2 separate regions of the Homo sapiens genome follow, and region 2 is linked to region 1. Evidence: fine-mapped expression QTL. A gene starts in region 1. The other region holds a variant in brackets. All regions are shown on one strand. Distances are from middle to middle. Region 1 holds the start of CASC8 (cancer susceptibility 8). Region 2 overlaps CASC8 (cancer susceptibility 8).

Evidence for each region. PIP is the estimated chance that this variant, and not a neighbour inherited with it, causes the effect.
Region 2: its variant is fine-mapped to the expression of CASC8 in whole blood (INTERVAL, PIP 0.99).

The regions. Positions count from the first base shown.
Region 1 is chr8:127,477,212-127,487,265 of GRCh38, forward strand. CASC8 (cancer susceptibility 8) reads right to left here and starts at 4,928. Exons shown (of 6, transcript NR_117100.1): 1 at 4,423-4,928; 2 at 3,517-3,860; 3 at 2,493-2,595; 4 at 1,872-1,959.
Region 2 is chr8:127,428,252-127,438,305 of GRCh38, forward strand. All of the region lies in intron 4 of CASC8 (cancer susceptibility 8), which reads right to left. Among named protein-coding and RNA genes, the nearest start is that of POU5F1B, 17 kb to the left of the region's middle. RefSeq lists an enhancer at 3,965-4,879. The variant T/C (reference allele first, on the strand shown) is at 5,490.

The DNA of each region.
Region 1 (10,054 bases):
ATGAAAGATCTATAATACTATGGGTAAAGTGCTGTTAAACAGCATTGCAAGCTACAGAGAAATCTTTCATAAAAAGAAGAGTCAATCAATGCACTAAATTTCATTCTTGTCTTATTTTAGGAAATTGTCATAGCTACCTAACCTTCAGCAACCACCACCCTGATCAGTCAGCAGCCATCAACATTGAGACAAGACCCTCCACCAGCAAAAACAGATTATGATTTGCTGAAGGCCCAGGTTTATTATTTAGCAATAAAGTTTTTTTGTTTGTTTGTTTGTTTTTGAGATGGAGTCTCGCTCTGTTGCCCAGGCTGGAATGCAGTGGCATGATCTCGGCTCACTGTAACCTCTGCTTCCTGTGTTCAAGTGATTCTCCTGTCTCAGCCTCCCTAGTAGCTGGAACTACAGGCGCCCACCACCACACCTGGCTAATTTTTGTATTTTTAGTAGAGACAAAGTTTCACCATATTGGCCAGGCTAGAACTCCTGACTTCTGGTGATCCTCCTGCCTCAGTCTTCCAAAATGCTGGGATTACAGGGATGAGCCACCACGCCCAGCTAGCAATAAAATATTTTTTAATTAGGATGTGTACATTTAAGAATGGGCATGGTGGCTCACACCTGTAATCCCGGCACTTTGGGAGGCCGAGACGGGAGGATCACTTGAGGTCAGGAGTTTGAGATCAGCCTGACCAACATGGTAAAACCCTGCCTCTACTAAAAAAAAAAAAAAAAGTTTTTAAAAATTAGCTGAGTGTGGTGGCATGCACCTCTGTAATCTCAGCTACTTGGGAGGCCAAGGCAGGAGAATCACTTGAACTTGGAAGGTGGAGGTTGCAGTGAGCCGAGATCGCATCACTGCACTCCAGCCTGCGTGACAGACTGAGACTCAGTCTCAAAAAAATTAAAAAAGTAAAATAAGATGTGTACATGCTTTAGACATAATGCTATTTCACACACAGTAGACTACAGCAGTGTAAACATAACTTTTATATGCACTGGAAAATCAAAAACTTCACGTGACTTGCTTTATGGCAATATTTGCTTTATTGCAGTGGTCTGTAACCAAACCCACAATATCTCAAGTTATGCTTGTATATACATTTTTATAATCTCCTACACATAATATGGAAGGATAAGAAATTGAGGCACAAACAGGTTAAATATCTGTCTTAAAGCTGGGCAACTGGTAAATGATAGAGCCAGTATTTAAACTTGGCCATTATTCATTCATTTATTCACCGATTCATTTAATCATTAAACAAATAGTTATGGAGTGCCCATGAGGCATTATTTCCAGACTTCAACACTTTGTGGTATTATTCACTTGGCAAACTAAACTATTCTGTTGCTTAGACAAAGTGAAGGCAGACAAAGGAGGAAAACCAGAAGGGATTACAGGCTCTGAATCAAAGAAAGGCAGAAAAATGGAAGAGTGAGAGACAAGTTTCAGTTTCAGGTGAGATACCTGAAAGGGGAAAAATTCCTAGGGAATAGCTTTCCTCCTCCAGGGCTCCAGGTTGAATGAATTCCCTGAACTCAGGAACAAGCGTCAAGACTTGTTTTATTGGTATTTACAAAAATAGGTTTTAAAGGATCAGTGATTTGCAGATTCCAGTTGGATGTGTCACACACACACATCTCTCATTCCTCACGTCTAAGAGAGGGGAGAAGGAAAGACACGGCTTTGAAAGCCTAGATATTTTGAAAGGGGTGTTTTGGGATTTCAGCGATTTCTTTTTCCAGCAGCAACTGTATCTTGGACTGTGGTGTATCTCTCTTTCCCATCTCCCAGGCAGGTCAGTTAACCCTTTTGGGCTGTGTTCAATCAGGGTTAGTGCGTAATAAAGATCCTCTGCATTTAGAATTACCTTTTTTTAACCTCTAAACCCTCTTCAAGAGGCTGCAAACTCTTCAAAGACAGAAGCTGCTGTACGGATTTTTCACCTGCTTCAGTGCCTAGAGAGGAACAAGGGAGAGAAGGGGAGAGAAAAAGGAGGAAGGAAGAAACAGGAGCAAGGGATATCTACTTGGTACTTTACAAGGTAGTGTTAATGAAATACACTTAAATCAAGAGTTCTGGGTTCAAGTTCCAGTCCTGACGGTGCCTATACATCCTTGGGTCATCACTCAGACTCTCAGAGCCTCAATTTCTTACTCTGAGAAATGGAAATAATAATGCCTACTTCACCAGATCATTAGGAGAATTAAATAAGGTAATGTATTGGGTAACATTTTGTAATTGTGTGCTACTGTGTAAGTTAAAATTGTATGAAGGTTTAATAAAAGGAATTGTTCTTTAAGACTTCAAGGACTTTCTGTCAGAAGTTGAAACTAGAGGATTTACCAGGATGTTTCTGGCTCTATAGGGGTCATGTCCCTTTCCAAGATGCCTCAGTTGACCAGTAAACACATTCTTTTCAAGGCTTAATATTAAAATAGTATCAAATTCTGATCTAATCTGGATCAGAAGAGAAAATACTCCAACCTACCATTGTCAACCGCAACACTGGTTGTGTTTAATGGTGATGGAATTCTGTCACTTCCACCAACACTTTTTGAGCATTCGCTGCATGCGGGGCATTCTGGTGTATACTGATAAGAAACAACAACCAAAGATAATTAAGATTGACCTCACCCTCCGAGATGTTTACAGTTTACTTTGCTTCCCTAAGCTTCAGTTTTTCCCTCTGCCAAAACAGAAGCTCGGAAGAGATGTCTCCAAGACACTTTCTACCATGACCTTTTGAATTTCATAACTCTCTAATTCCAGAATTCAAAGAGTGACTGTTTTACCTCCCACTGAATGATTCCTCTGAGAAAAAAGCTCTCTGCTAGCTAAGCTAGCCAAGACACCATACCTGAAGATAATACCTAAACTTCTGTTTGTGTCCCAGGAATCCCAAATTGATGTCACACCAAAACAATGTCATTTATACAATTCATTATATGTCACTCATTAATACATTTGCTTAGTTGATTTTCATTAAAATCCTGCAGGGAGCATTATTACACTCATTTTTCAAAAGAGATAACTGAGTCGTAAAAGGATTAAATTATTTGCCCAGGTCACACGGAAAGAAATTAACGTGGCCACGGCATAAAACCAGATTTTCTGTTTTTAAACATATTTTTTTCGCTGACCTCCACCCTGTAAGAGCTTTTATTACCAAGCGATTGAGAAGCACAGGCTCAGGGACACTGAATTTGACCAAAGAAGCCAATAGAACTATTCCAAAAACCTATGGTTCCCCCTAAAGCATTAGAAAGACTCAGAACGGGTTAAGTGCTCCCTGGCTCATTCCCAACAGACACTACATTCACCTGTGCTTGCTCTGAAATAAATCAGTGTCCCTTTCTGCTGCTGCTGTTGTCTGGAAATAATGCAAATGCAATGGGCCTTTACTGACATTGTGCTTCCCTGGAAGGATACACATAATAAATTATCCCTTAATACTGTTAAAGAGACATTTTCCTCTTACTCAGGAGCTTTTGGGGTTGGACTGGGCTACTCACCCAGCAAGGAGGAGGACATGTGTCTTGTCACTGGCCCGGTTATTCATGTGGCCTCTCATTGCTCCTTGGCTCACTGCATTGCAAGATTCAAGGATGCACTTCCAGGCCTCCACATCAAGTCATAGGACTTGCCGGTAACCTAGATTGGTTTTCTCATTTGTAATTTGAATTTATTTTATGTTATGCATTTGTATGTTTATTTATTCGGATGCTCAGAAGCTGAAGATAACTAGTGCTCCTGGTCCATGCCATTCATCAATTGGAAGAATGCCAAGCTGTTTCCGCTGAGGACAGAAGGCATTGGTCTCCCCTGCAGGAAGCCACTGCTGCTCCTTAATTGTTTGCTAGAGGAAGAATCAAGGGTAAAATTTAAAGTAAATGGCTGGCCGAGTTGCACTAATTCATCAAAGCATGTTTCAAGTCAGTAGTCAGAGCATGCATCAGCCCCCGGCGCCACCAGCTTCTACGAGAGTGGAAAAGCCAGCAGACCTCCGAGCAGATGAAATCATTAGGAGGCATTCAGCAGGGCTTGAAAAGCAAAGAGAGAGGAGGCGGGGATTTCTCTGCATGCTCCCTTTGCCACATGGGAAACACCAGCTGTCTGTGACCTAGTTATCCAAGAAAGGAAACACGGAAGAGAACCCACAAAACTGTTTGCTACATGAGAACCCCATTCTCCAAAGACATGCTGGATGTTGAGAAAACAATTAGCATCTTCTAGTTTGACTCTATTTTTTTTTTTTTTTGCTTAGAGATTTTTGGTAGCAATAAAGACAAGCCCTATTACAGTAGCCTAAGAAAATGGAATTTTTAGGGATAGCCCATGGATAGGAAGTAAAAATCTTGGTTCATGAAAGATGGGAAGTAGGAACTGGAATGTTTTTGGAAAATCTATCAGCATCTCACCTCTTTCTCTTGCTCTCTCTCTCTCATTACATGGCCCTTTATTTGTGCAACAATTCATTTTCCTACTTCTCTATGAAGGTCTCTCTTCTTGCTTTTAAGCATGAAGCCACTCATTCATTCAGTAAATATGTATTTAATGCTAACAGGTGCTGGCACTGCCCAAGATGCCAGGGCTACAGCAATCAACAAAACAGACAAAATCCCTGCCCTCGTGAAATGTACACTGTGGTGAGGCAGGTGAGGCAGGCAGAAACTGAACAAGATAAATAAGTAAAAGATACAGTGTGCAAGAGGGCAGTGAGTGCTTGGAAGAAAAGATCAAGGGAGGAGAAGTGAAATACTGGCAAAGTAGTTGAAATCTTAAATAAAATGGTCATGGGAGACCCCACTGAGAAAGTCATTTCTGAGTGAAACCTGAAGGAAGTAAGAAGTTAGCATTGCAATTGTCTGGGGCAGAGCATGCTGAGGAGAGGGAATAGCAGGTGCAAAGGGCCTGGGGTGGTTCAAGGAGCTAGCAGAGAGGCCATTGAGGAAGGAGGTTAAGCAAGTGAGGGGGATTAGTTAGAGGTGAAGTCATAGACCTGGGGGCACAGATCACAAAGCGTTTTCTAGGTCATAGTGAGGACTTTGGCTTTTACTCTGAGTGAGATCAGAAGATCCCAAAAGGCCACCACAAGATGATATTCACGTGGTCCACCTAATCCAGTAGTCAGTCCTTATTGCTAACTTGCACACAGTCAAGCTCCCTTAGTCTCCAAAAGAGGAGATCCAAGCAACGATACTTCATGAGCAGTCGGCTTCGAGAGTCATCCTGAGTTTTCAAGGCTGACACAAATATCAGTCTAACTACGCAGTCCACCTGTGTAAATATTTGGGGAATAGTGGATGGTTAAGGAAGAGACCTAGTATGAGATAAAGTGTCCAGGCCCTGCACACATTTGGGTCTCACAGAATTAACTGGCAAATGCTAGTAAGAGTATCAGGACCTTAGGAAATAGAGATTCCTTTAGAAAACTCTAATTCCCAGAAAGATTTTCACATAAGACCTTCACACAAAGACAAAATTAGAATGTGTGTTCTCTCACCATCTCCTTATCCAGAGAGTCCTTAGATGTGGCAGAAGGACCCACAAGAGTTGTCAGAGGCAGTTGTGAGGGGTTGCCAGTCATGTTAGTATTAATAGATATCATGAGAAGTTAGACACGTTTTTGAATAAATTAGAATGAATTAAATATTAACCCAAAATGTCATTATGCTCACTCCCTACCCTCCCACTATGCTTTCCTGACAGAGAAAGAAAGGGTGGCACTGTGGCTGGAATACAGAGCCCACAGGACTTCAGCATGTCCTACACATAAACCTCCTCCTTTTTGTGACCCTTGGTGGAAAAAGTATGAGAGCCACGTATCTTAGAAATAACTGCCTTTCCTCCCTAGATGCCTGCCACAAAAACAGACATGTTCTAGAACTTTCTTCTCCCTAGTTCCAAGAACACTGAACTCATGGTAATGGCCAAACAATGATCTTTTTCTAAGGACAATGTCAGAATGCTTTACTGTGCCATTTTCATAATCAGACACAAGAAAGTTACCATCTGTAGTTCAGCCATAGCACTTCACATGAAAGAGGAAATGACTAAATATATATTTACATAGCTCTCATGAATATGCATTTTGTAAATGCACAAATATGTACAATTACTTGATAGACTGTTTTGGTTCCTATCTTTCGAATATTTAATACAACTGTAAATGTTTAATTCATATTTACTGAGTTGATTGAACAGTTTCTAAATTATCCCAAGCCTTGCTGGAAACAAGATTGAATGTTTCCAGCATATTTGCACACTAGGATTTGGCCAGGAGAATCCACACTAACTGGTTAAATGATGATTTTCTTAGAAAGCATATTGAATAAGCTGCTGGTGAAATCATCTTGCTGACCACAACATAGAGGGACAGCACCAGATCTAATTCCAACCATGACCTGCAGAGCCTCTCATGACTAGGCCCCCCTGATGCCTCTTTGCACCTCTGTCTGCACTGCCCCTCATTGCTAAGCCACAATCAACCCATGTTCCACTTTCAGTCCTCTGCACCAGCTGCTCCATGTGTCCAGAATGCTCTTCACATAGACATCAAGCCTTTGCTCTAATGTCACCTTTTCAATGAGGTCTATCTTAACCTCTGCATTTGAAATTGCAATCCCATCATCCCCCAGAACTCCTGATATCCCCTACACTCCCTTATACTTTTTTGTCTATAGCAACCACCCCTCACCACTTTATAACATTTATGCTTTGTAGTCTGTCTGTGTCCACTCACTAGAATTCAAATATCACAAAAGCAGGAGTCCACTTTTTTTTTCATTGAAAAACTCCAAATCCTAGAAGGAAGCTGGCATTTAATATGTGCTCAATAGACATTAGAGGAAGAAAAGAAGGAAGGAAGGAAAGAAGGGAGGGAGGGAGGGAGGGAGGGAGGAAGGAAGGAAGGAATGAAGGAAGGAAGGAAGGAAGAAAGGAAGGAAAGAAAGAAAGTCAAGAGACCTGGGCTCAAATCCAGCATGGGAATAAGTAGGGAGGAAAGAAGGGAAGTCAAGAGACCTGGGATCAAATCCAGCTTGGGCATGAGGCAAGACCAGAGCAGAGGAGATTGTCCTTGAGCTCAGGTGACGCCCATCTGGCCAACTCTCCACAAAGCTGGGTCACACTGTTTAGAGGACAGTTCTTGGCAGTAGTAGTAGTGCTGGTGGGGAGGGCTTTGTCATTATATTGTGTGCGTGTGGTGTGGGACTCTTCCTTAGTTCAGCTAAAGACAAGCTCCCTGTCACAAGGCCATGAAAGATTAGGCTCGCAGACAATTTGAAGGGTGAGAATAATGGGATTTATTGAGCAAAAGGAAAAATGGGGGCAGAACAGGGACGCAGCAGAGCCAGAGTCTTCCTAGTATGTGCTTCCTGCTTCACAATTGAATCCCAGCTACCACCCAGGAATAGGAAGGGCCAGGCTCTTCCCCACTGCAAATGGTGAGAACTTCTGTGGCTCCACCCCAGTGTGCACTCCTCCCAGTATGCAGGCTGGTTGGAGTTTCTCTGTGGACCCTTTCCCATCTGGCTGTCTCACATGCAAAATGGGAGTATTTGAATCTCCTTCTGAGAGTAATCTGAAAGTTAAATGAGGTAAAGCAAGTGAAAACATGCTCATGTATTAGGTCTAGGGAGGAAGCAAAAAGGAAGTAGAAGGATTCTCCTGAGTAGGGGATAATTCTTTTAGGGAGATGCTTACCCCAGAATTATTAATATTCAAGGAAAAGCCAGGAGCGACTATAAAACACAGCTCATCATTGCAGACCAAAGACAAAGCACCTCAAAATATGTCTACTACAGTAGGCATATTTTGCAGAAAAAAATTAGAGAAAACTACATCTCCTTGGAGTAAAGTGCCACAGGTATCCAATAACAGAAAATAGGAAAAGACATCATTGCAAACATAGGAAAATAGTAGATGAAGATGCAAGATCCTAAAATGTGTATTTTGGGCAGTTTGTGACAGATCAAGTCACATTTCTGACAGAGTGAGAATTAACCCAAAGCAAAATCAAGATATCATTTAAATGTAAAATGGAATGATAGACACAATTGAATAGGACAAGGAGATAATGTGAAAATAACAGAGAGGCAAAGGACAAAGAATAAAAATTAAAAGAAGGGGACTCACTCCAGAACCGAAACAAGATACCCCACTAATTCTCCTGTCTGCAGACATCACCAATATTCTGGTAAATAAAATTAATGATAATTACCAGAATGACACTATAGTTATCAATGAAGAGTGTTTGTAGCTTGTCATACGTGTGTGTGAATGTTCAAGGGGATGTTTAGTAAACGGTAAATAGTGTGGGTTCAGTTCTGCTCTGCTAATCCTATATGCCATAATTACAAGGTCTCAAATAAGTGCAAACCCTTCAATTATCAGGAAGAGATATCTGAGCCAAGTGGAACCAACTGACAGTAGCAATCAAAATTCTATCGCCCACAAGGGTGTGGGGGAAAGAAGTACTTTCAAAACTTTAGTGGCATTATAAACTGGCTAAAAATATATATACTTCTGGGAGGTAATTTTGCATACTTGCATATGCAAATATTCCTGTAAAAATGTGCCTAAAATTTATTCCTCTACTCTTCTCCATCCACCTCTGTAATACAACTTCTGGGAGTGCAGTCTACAGAAGTAATACAAAGATCCTGGGAAAACAATGTTATTTTGCTCATAGGTGTTTATGACCACATAATGTTTTATGGTAAAAAATAAAAAACAACATACATAATTATTGTGGGTATAGTTTAGGATTTCAAGATGCTTTTTTTCATTTTTATTAAACTTGGTGTGTAGACATATAATTTACACAGAGTTTTATACATTTTAAAAACGTAAATTTTTAGAAATGTATACAGTCATGTAACCATTGTCATCAAGGTATGTAACACTTGCCTGGAGTCCCAGCTACTGGGAAGAGTGAGGCAGGAGGAGCACGTGAGCCCGGGAGTTCCAGGCTGCAGTGCACTGTAATCATGCCTGTGAATAGCCACTGCACTCCAGCCTGGACAACATAATGAGACTTTATTTCTAAATTATTTTTTAATTTAAGAAAAGATATATAAAACTTGCATCATCTCGAAATTTCCTTCAAATAGTCAATACTCACTTCCTGCCCCAGGGAATCCGCTGGTATAGTTATTTCCCTATGGTTTTGCATTTTCTAGGTCACTATATAAATGAAATCATACAGTACACAAACTTTTGTGTATGCCTTTTTTCACCTAGCATGATGCATATGAGATTTATCCATGTTGTTATTGGGTAATATTCTACTGTATGGATGCAACAAAATTTGTTTATCTATTAACGATTCATTTTATTTTGATATAATTATTGATTGTCAGTGCATAATTATTAGTTATCTAAATTATAGATTTGAAAGATAGTACTGAGAGGTCTTGTATACCCTTCACCAAGGTTCCTTCTATGGTTCCACCTTATACAACTATCATACGATATCAAAATCAGGAATTGACAGAGGTACAGTGTGTGGGGGTGGGGGGACAGGCATGGGCATGCACAAATTTGCATGGGTGTGCGTGTGTAGTTCTATGTCATTTTATCACTTGTGTAGATTTCTGTAAGTGCTTCTGCAAGATACAGAAGTATTACCTCCCACAAAGATTATTATACTACTCCTTTATAGTTACACACCCCCATGCTTATTTCCGTTTGCTTTCTCCCAACAATAATGTAATTATTTTAGACATTTCCTGCTTTGATATACTTTTTTAACCCCATTAGACAGTGTTATATTTTTTTTCTTCAATCATCAAACATGATCTAGAAATATCAAGAGAAGAAAGTCTTCAGTATTTGCTGGTATTTTTACTCTTTCTGTTGTTCTTCCTTCCTTCCTGATGACCCAAGACTTCTTTTGTCATTTACTTTCTTTTTAGAGGAATTCTTTCTGAGCACCTACCTCCCTTGCTAGCAACATATTCCCTTAGTTTTACTTCATCGGAGAATATCTTTATTACACCTTCATCCTAGAAGGATATTGTCTCTGGATATAGACTAATTTTGGAAAGA
Region 2 (10,054 bases), 49 kb before region 1:
GACTAGAAGGCCAAGTGCAGAAGCAAGGGATGCATCAGGAGTCTCTAGTGACAGATCAGCTGCGAAGCCATGGTTGCTTGGTCTAGAGTGGCCATAAGAGAATTGATGATAAGACATTGTTTAAGGGTAAATTTTGAGGCCAGAGTTGGTTGCCATTGCTGTTGGAATAGGCTTGGATGTGAAAGAAAGGAGTCAAGGCTGACAGTAAGGTTTTTGACCTGAAAAATTCCTAGATTAGAATTATCATTTACTGAATTGGGGAAAGCTATAAGAAAAGTAGTTTTGTGGTGGTGAGATGGGAATGGGGCAGTGGAACCAAGAGTTCATTCATTGAATAAATATGTTACTGAGACTCTCTTGTGCCAGACGTCTTGCTTAGCACTGGGAATACACTGATGACTAGACAGAAACAGGCTTTGCTCTCATGAAACACAAGTAGCACAAAGAGACAACATTTATTGAGTCCTTACTAGGAGACAAGCACCATGCTAAGTACTTTTTATTTAATGAAGCTGACTGTCTGGTAGGAGAGACAGTCATTAAACAAGTAACTATTCAAATATTTATTTAATTATGAGTGGAAAAGTACAGAGCATATCCCTGTGTATAATTTGGGAAAACTGCTCCCCAGGCTCCTTAGGGAAGGTGATACTGGGCTAGAGCAGAGGAGCAGCATTTTTGAGAATCTGGCCAATATGGAAAGATTTGCTGACATATTCAGATTTGAGACTTTTTTTTTTTTTAGACGGAGTTTTGCTCTTGCCACTCAGGCTGGAGTGCAGTGGCACAATCTCGGCTCACTGCAACCTCCGCCTCCCAGGTTCAAGTGATTTTCCTGCCTCAGCCTCCCATGTAGCTGGGAATACAGGTGCCTACCCACAGGTCCGGCTAATTTTTTGTATTTTTAGTAGAGACGGGGTTTCATCATGTTGGCCAGCCTGGTCTTGAACTTCTGACGTCAGGTGATCCACCCGCCTTGGCCTTCCAAAGTGCAGGGATTACAGGCGTGAGCCACGGCACCCGGCCTGGAGACCACTTATTTTGCAAGCATGTTGCCTCCCCTCTTATCTCTGGGAGTGGGGAGGACATGACCTTCTGTGTGAGTCCATGGATTCAATGATCAGAACCTCCATGACAGAAATTCCAAAGTGGTCTAGAATCTCTGCCCAGGCCATTTCTTGGCATGGCAGGCTATCCTCTCTGCTCCCTGCCTACCTATCCCACTTGGGCCAATCCAACAGGAAACATCTAGACTGCAGAAGACAACGACTTCTCCCTCTGACCACCACACTTCTACGTGAACCCCATTCCTAGGCTCCAACTTACCTCTCCAACCCCATTTAAATGTGTTCCATTGAGCCTCTGATCATGTCTCATCTTGTATGATTCTGAAATTTATCTGATTGCTTGTTTCCCAGCAATACTGCAAACCCCTTGAAGACAGGGATGGGTGCCTTGTTCTGCTTTTGTATCCCCAACAGGCATCACAATGCAAACTGCTCGGGGCTGATAACATTTGAGTGAGAGACTGTGAGCCAAAGACCTTGACATCATTTAAGAGAGGATGTTTGGAAAGAAAATCATCTTTTCAACACACAGAATTCAGCCTGACTCAGGCTAACCAACATGCCTGTGCAGCTAGGAGATATACCAGAGTGTCAGTTTATTAATTTTCAATGGGGGGAAAGAAGACAAAAGTTTCAGGTTGGTCTGAGTTGGTGAGTTTCCTTCCCTGAAGCCAAGTCACAGGGGAACCAAATCATGATTGGAAACCATTTTATTTTTATTTTCTCTCTATGAGAAGCTACATTGGCAGGAATCAGAAAATAATTGAGCTCCTTATGAGGTAGTCTGTTAGAGGACTCATGGTAGCATAAATTGCTATCTATAACTAATGGGGTTATTTCTCCAACCTGGGTAACCTTATGACATTGTCCATGTATTTCAAGGCATCCAAATCTCTCCTTTGCTGGAAACGTAACACCACCCACTAGAGCTTACCAGATTAGCCTCTTTAGGCTGCAAAAGATGCCCAGTAAATGATGAACACACAGACATGGGGTTTTTGCTTCACTAGACATAGCCCAAAGGAACTAATTTATGCTTCCCTTTTCTTTTTGGCATATTTTGGGAGGCAACCCACCACCATGTTGATTTCAGACTTAAGAAGGAGAAATTGAGGGCCTGGGTGTTCTACAAACAAACTTTATCTATAGATAATTAAGTTTCAGACAACTAGCTTCAGCGACTACTAGAAATATCTTCGGATTAGCATCAACAAGAAACTTGAGCATTTAGAAACCATGATGATTTCAGGCATGCCCACAAGAAATTAAATGTTTCAGCACAAAAGGCAGGTGTTGAGTGTGTAGAACTGTTCAGAGTAAATCATTCTATTCTTTCTGCATAGTCCTCTATAATTGAAAAAGTCCTTTCAGAACAATTTCGTAGGGAAAGAAAACTTGCATTTTGTGCATCAGCTTTTGTACTTAGGCTTTTACATGTGTTAACACTTATGTTCCTTGTGATGGCAGATGAAGAAAATGTAGCTGAGTGAAGTTGAGTGGGTTGCTTATTGTCAACAAGTCCTGAGGGACAGAGTCAGTAATTGAGATCAGAGTTGGGGGCTCTTGTCCAAGCTTCTCCCACAACCGCATTCTGGGGCACTTCGTGGAGAAATGCCACTCAGCAATCTGCATTCAGCTCTGCTGTTGCTGTGGTTTTCAAATTGGCTACACATCAAAAAACACGTGAGAATCTTGTCAGCCACAGATTTCTAAGCCTCACCTCAGAGGTTCTGATTCTCTGGGTATGGCATGGGCCCCAGAGGTCTAGATTTTTGCATCAGGTAACTATGAATATTCCAGGTCCCTGCCTTCATACAAAGCACCATGAGGTGATAAGTATTACATTTTCTTGTTCCTGGTCCTAGGGTTCATATTTAGCTTAATTCTATAAAATAAAAACTTCGGACATTTAACATACCCTGCCTCATTTGATAGGGTTGTCCATGAAATTGAGAGACAGTGGAAAACTCATTGATCTTGCTATTTACCATGAGTCGTAGACCTAGTAACTTAGCCTCTCCGAGTTTCAGTGTCTCCATTATTGAAAGCAGGGCTTATAGTAACTACTCTCTAGAGATATGAAATTCAAATACCATAATATGTGTATTAGCTGTAGTAGTAGCCATTTATCAGAGCAGGAGATGAAGGGCACAGGTTCTATAGCCTGACTGCCTAGAGTCATATCCCAAAGCTTTCAGCTACTAACTGTGTGATCTAAGGGAAGTTACTTAACTGCTCTGTACCTTAGTGTTATCATCTATAAAATAAGAAATAATAATACTAGTACCAACTCAGAGACTATCAGGAGAAATAAATGAATTAATATGTAAAAGGCTTTGGCTGCATCACAGAGAGTTTGGTAAGTTGTGTATTTTCATTAATTTTGTCAGGCCTCTGAGCCCAAGCCAAGCCATCCCATCCCCTGTGACTTGAATACCCAGATGGCCTGAAGTAACTGAAGAATCACAAAAGAAGTGAATATGCCCTGCCCCACCTTAACTGATGACATTCCACCACAAAAGAAGTGAAAATGGCCAGTCCTTGCCTTAAGTGGTGACATTACCTTGTGAAAATCCTTTTCCTGGCTCATCCTGGCTCAAAAAGCACCCCCACTGAGCACCTTGCGACCCCCACTCCTGCCCGCCAGAGAACAAACCCCCTTTGACTGTAATTTTCCTTTACCTACCCAAATCCTATAAAACGGCCCCACCCTTATCTCCCTTCGCTGACTCTCTTTTTGGACTCAGCCCGCCTGCACCCAGGTGAAATAAACAGCCATGTTGCTCACACAAAGCCTGTTTGGTGGTCTCTTCACACGGACGCGCATGAAATTTGGTGCTGTGGCTCGGCTCGGGGGACCTCCTTTGGGAGATCAATCCCCTGTCCTCCTGTTCTTTGCTCCATGAGAAACATCCACCTACGACCTCAGGTCCTCAGACCAACCAGCCCAAGAAACATCTCACCAATTTCAAATCCGGTAAGCAGCCTCTTTTTACTCTCTTCTCCAACCTCCCTCACTATCCCTCAACCTCTTTCTCCTTTCAATCTTGGTGCCACACTTCAATGTCTCCCTTAATTTCAATTCCTTTCATTTTCTGGTAGCGACAAAGGAGACACGTTTTATCCGTGGACCCAAAACTCCGGCTCCGGTCACGGACTGGGAAGGCAGCCTTCCCTTGGTGTTTAATCCTTGCAGGGACGCCTCTCTGATTATACACTCACGTTTCAAGGGTGTCAGACCACACGCAGGGACGCCTGCCTTGGTCCTTCACCCTTAGCGGCAAGTCCCGCTTTTCTGGGGAAGGGGCAAGTACCCCAACCCCTTCTCTGCTTTTCTGGGGCAGGGGCAAGTACCCCTCAACCCCTTCTCCTTCACCCTTAGCGGCAAGTCCTGCTTTCCTGGGGGGCAAGAACCCCCCAGTTGCTTATTTCCGCACCCCGACCTCTTATCTCTGTGTCCCAATCCCTTATTTCCATGCCCCAACCTCGTATCTCTGCACCCCAATCCCTTATTTCCGTGCCCCAACCTCTTATATCTCTGTGCCCCAATCCCTTATTTCCACACCCCAACCTCTTATCTCTGCACCCCACCCCTTTTCTGGAAGGTAAGAACCCCCGAACCCCTTCCCTCCATTTCTCTACTCTCTCTTTTCTCTAGGCTTGCTTCCTTCAGTATAGGCAACCTTCCACCCTCCATTCCTCCTTCTACTCCCTTGGCCTGTGTTCTCAAAAACTTAAAACCTCTTCAACTCACACCTGACCTAAAACCTAAATGCCTTATTTTCTTCTGCAATGCCACTTGACCCCAATACAAACTCGACAGTAGTTCCAAATAGCCAGAAAATGGCACTTTGAATTTTTCCATCCTGCAAGATCTAAATAATTCTTGTTGTAAAATAGGCAAACAGTCCGAGGCGCCTGACGTCCAGGCATTCTTTTACACATCAGTCCCTTCCTAGTCTCTGTGCCCAGTACAACTCGTCCCAAATCTTCCTTCTTTCCCTCCCGCCTGTCCCCTCAGTCCCAACCCCAAGCATCGCTGAGTCTTTCTAATCTTCCTTTTCTACAGACCCATCTGACCTCTCACCTCCTCGCCAGGCCGAGCTAGGTCCCAATTCTTCCTCAGCCTCCGCTCCTCCACCCTATAATCTTTTTATCGCCTCCGCTCCTCACACCTGGTCCGGCTTACAGTTTCTTTCCGTGACTAGCCCTCCCTCACCTGCCCAGCAATTTACTCTTAGAAAGGTGGCTGGAGCTAAAGGCATAGTCAAGGTTAATGCTCCTTTTTCTTTATCCCAAATCAGATAGCGTTTAGGCTCTTTTTCATCAAATATAAAAATCCAGCCCAGTTCATGACTTGTTTAGCAGCAATACTGAGATACTTTACAGCCCTAGACCCTAAAAGGTCAAAAGGCCGTCTTA[T/C]TCTCAAAATGCACTTTATTACCCATTCTGCTCCCGACATTAAATAAAACTCCAAAAATTAAATTCCGGCCCTCAAACCCCATGACAGGATTTAATTAACCTCGCCTTCAAGGTGTACAATAATAGAAAAAAGTTGCAATTACTTGCCTCCACTGTGAGACAAACCCCAGCCACATCTGCAGCACACAAGAACTTCCAAACGCCTGAACCGCAGCGGCCAGGCGTTCCTCCAGAACCTCCTCCCCCAGGAGCTTGCTACATGTGCCGGAAATCTGGCCACTGGGCCAAGGAATGCCCGCAGCCTGGGATTCCTCCTAAGCCGTGTCCCATCTGTGTGGGACCCCACTGAAAATTGGACTGTTCAACTCACCTGGCAGCCACTCCCAGAGCCCCTAGAACGCTGGTCCAAGGCTCTCTGACTGACTCCTTCCCAGATCTTCTCGGCTTAGCAGCTGAAGACTGACACTGCCTGATTGCCTCGGAAGCCCCCTAGACCATCACGGACGCCAAGCTTTGGGTTACTCTCACAGTGGAAGGTAAGCCCGTCCCCTTCTTAATCAATATGGAGGCTACCCACTCCACATTACCTTCTTTTCAAGGGCCTGTTTCCCTTGCCTCCATAACTGTTGTGGGTATTGACGGCCAGGCTTCTAAACCTCTTAAAACTCCCCAACTCTGGTGCCAACTTAGACAATACTCTTTTAAGCACTCCTTTTTAGTTATCCCCACCTGCCCAGTTCCCTTATTAGGCTGAGACACTTTAACTAAATTATCTGCTTCCCTGACTATTCCTGGACTACAGCTATATCTCATTGCCGCCCTTCTTCCCAATCCAAAGCCTCCTTGCGTCCTCCTCTTGTATCCCCCGACCCTAACCCACAAGTATAAGATACCTCTACTCCCTCCTTGGTGACCCCTTACCATCTCATTAAAACCTAATCACCCTTACCCCACTCAACGCCAATATCCCATCCCGCAGCACGCTTTAAAAAGATTAAAGCCTGTTATCACTCACCTGCTACAGCATGGCCTTTTAAAACCTATAAACTCTCCTTACAATTCCCCCATTTTACCTGTCCTAAAACCAGACAAGCCTTACAAGTTAGTTCAGGATCTGCGCCTTATCAACCAAATTGTTTTGCCTATCCCCCCTGTGGTGCCCAACCCGTACCCTCTTTTGTCCTCAATACCTTCCTCCACAACTCACTATTCCGTGCTTGATCTTAAAGATGCTTTTTTCACTATTCCCCTGCACCCCTCGTCCCAGCCTCTCTTTGCTTTCACTTAGACTGACCCTGAGACCCATTAGGCTCAGCAAATTACCTAGGCTGTACTGCTGCAAGACTTCACAGACAGCCCCCATTACTTCAGTCAAGCCCAAATTTTATCCTCATCTGTTACCTATCTCGGCATAATTCTCATAAAAACACATGTGCTCTCCCTGCCAATCGTGTCCGACTGATCTCTCAAACCCAAGCACCTTCTACAAAACAACAACTCCTTTCCTTCCTAGGCATGGTTAACGTGGTCAGAATTCTTACACAACAACCAGGACCACACCGTATAGCCTTTCTGTCCAAACAACTTGACCTTACTGTTTTAGCCTAGCCCTCATATCTTCATGCAGCGGCTGCCGCTGCTTTAATACTTTTAGAGGCCCTCAAAATCACAAACTATGCTCAACTCACTCTCTACAGTTCTCATAACTTCCAAAATCTATTTTCTTCCTCATACCTGACGCATATACTTTCTGCTTCCCGGCTCCTTCAGCTGTACTCACTCTTTGTTGAGTCTCCCACAATTACCGTTGTTCCTGGCCCAGACTTCAGTCCGGCCTCCCACATTATTCCTGATACCACACCTGACCCCCATGACAGTATCTCTCTGATCCACCTGACATTCACCCCATTTCCCCAAATTTCCTTCTTTCCTGTTCCTCACCCTGATCACGCTTGATTTATTGATGGCGGTTCCACCAGGCCTAATCGCCACACACCAGCAAAGGCAGGCTATGCTATAGTACAAGCCACTAGCCTGCCTCTTAGAACCTCTCATTTCCTTTCCATCGTGGAAATCTATCCTCAAGGAAATAACTTCTCAGTGTTCCATCTGCTATTCTACTACTCCTTAGGGATTATTCAGGCCCCCTCCCTTCCCTACACATCAAGCTCGAGGATTTGCCCCACCCAGGACTGGCAAATTAGCTTTACTCAACATGCCCTGAGTCAGATAACTAAAATACCTCTTAGTCTAGGTAGATACTTTCACTGGATAGGTAAAGTCCTTTCCTACAGGGTCTGAGAAGGCCACCGCAGTCATTTCTTCCGTTCTGTCAGACATAATTCCTCGGTTAAGCCTTCCCACCTCAATACAGTGTGATAACAGATGAGCCTTTATTAGTCAAATCAGCCAAGCAGTTTTTCAGGCTCTTAGTATTCAGTGAAACCTTTATATCTCTTACGGTCCTCCGTCTTCAAGAAAAGTAGAATGGACTAAAGGTCTTTTAAAAACACACCTCACCAAGCTCAGCCACCAAAAAGGACTGGACAATACTTTTACCACTTTCCCTTCTCAGAATTCTGGCCTGTCCTCGGAATGCTACAGGGTACAGCCCATTTAAGCTCCTGTATAGACGCTCCTTTTTATTAGGCCCCAGTCTCATTCCAGACACCAGACCAACTTAGACTGTGCCCCCAAAAAAACTTGTCATCCCTACTATCTTCTGTCTAGTCATACTCCTATTCACTGTTCTCAACTACTCATACATGCCCTGCTCTTGTTTACACTGCCGGTTTACACTGTTTTTCCAAGCCATCACAGCTGATATCTCCTGGTGCTATCCCCAAACTGCCACTCTTAACTCTTGAAGTAAATAAATAATCTTTGCTGGCAGGACTATGCTGAATCTCCTTAGGCACTCTCTAATCGGATATCCTGAGTTGTCCCAATTCTTAGACCTTTTATACCTGTTTTTCTCCTTCTGTTATTCCATTTAGTTTCTCAATTCATCCAAAACCGTATTCAGGCCATCACCAATCATTCTATACGACAAACGTTTCTTCTAACATCCCCACAATATCACCCCTTACCACAAGACCTCCCTTCAGCTTAGTCTCTCCCACTCTAGGTTCCCACGCTGCCCCTAATCCTGCTTGAAGCAGCCCTGAGAAACATCGCCCATTCTCTGTCCATATCACCCCCCAAAAATTTTAGCCACCCCAACACTTCAACACCATTTTGTTTTATTTTTCTTATTAATATAAGAAGGCAGGAATGTCAGGCCTCTGAGCCCAAGCCAAGCCATCCCATCCCCTGTGACTTGCACATATACGCCCAGATGGCCTGAAGTAACTGAAGAATCACGAAAGAAGTGAATATGCCCTGCCCCACCTTAACTGATGACATTCCACCACAAAAGAAGTGAAAATGGCCGGTCCTTGCCTTAAGTGATGACATTACCTTGTGAAAGTCCTTTTCCTGGCTCATCCTGGCTCAAAAACCACCCCCACTGAGCACCTTGTGACCCCCACTCCTGCCCGCCAGAGAACAAACCCCCTTTGACTGTAATTTTCTTTACCTACCCAAATCCTATAAAACGGCCCCAACCTTATCTCCCTTCGCTGACTCTCTTTTCGGACTCAGCCTGCCTGCACCCAGGTGAAATAAACAGCCATGTTGCTCACACAAAGCCTGTTTGGTGGTCTCTTCACACAGACATGCGTGAAAAATTTCAAATAATATTTTATTTTTGCCTTAATTTTGATGTTTGCCCAGGAGTTATTCAGGAGTAAATTGTTTAATTTTAAAGTATTTGTATAGTTTTAAGAGCTCTTCCTGATATTGATTACTATTATTATTGCACTGTGATCCCAGAGTGTGCTTGGTATTATTTCAATTTTTTAATTTATTGAGACTTGCTTTATGATCAAGCATGTAATGGACCTTAGAATACATTTTTTTTGTGCAGATGAGAAGAATGAATATTCTGTTATTGTTGGGTGAAGTGCTGTGTAGATGTCTATGAGGTCCAATTGGTCAAGTGTTGGGTTTAAATCTAGAGTCTCTTTGTTGGTTTTCTGCCTTGATAATCTGTCTAATACCGTCAGTGGGATGTTGAAGTCTTTTACTATTACTGTTTTCATCCAAAGCAGTGATAAGAGAAAGTTTATAACCCTGAATGCCTTCATCAAAAAGTTAGAAACATCTCAAATTAAAAATCTAACTTTGCACCTAGAAGAATTAGAAAAAAAAAGAACAAACTAATCCCAAAGAAAATAAATCATTAAAATGAAATAGAAGAAAATAATTAAATTAGAGAACTTAAGGAAGTTGAGATGCAAAAATCAATACAAAAAATCAATGAAAGCAAGAGTTTATTCTTTGAAAAATAGACTGCTAGCTAAATTAACAAAAAAAATGAAGGAGAAGATCCTAACGAGCACAATCAGAAACAACAAATGATATTACAGCTGATCCCACAGATATGCAAAAGATCCTCAGAGACTTATGAATTTATGAACAACTCTATGCACACAAATTCGAAAATCTAGAAGGAACAGATAAAT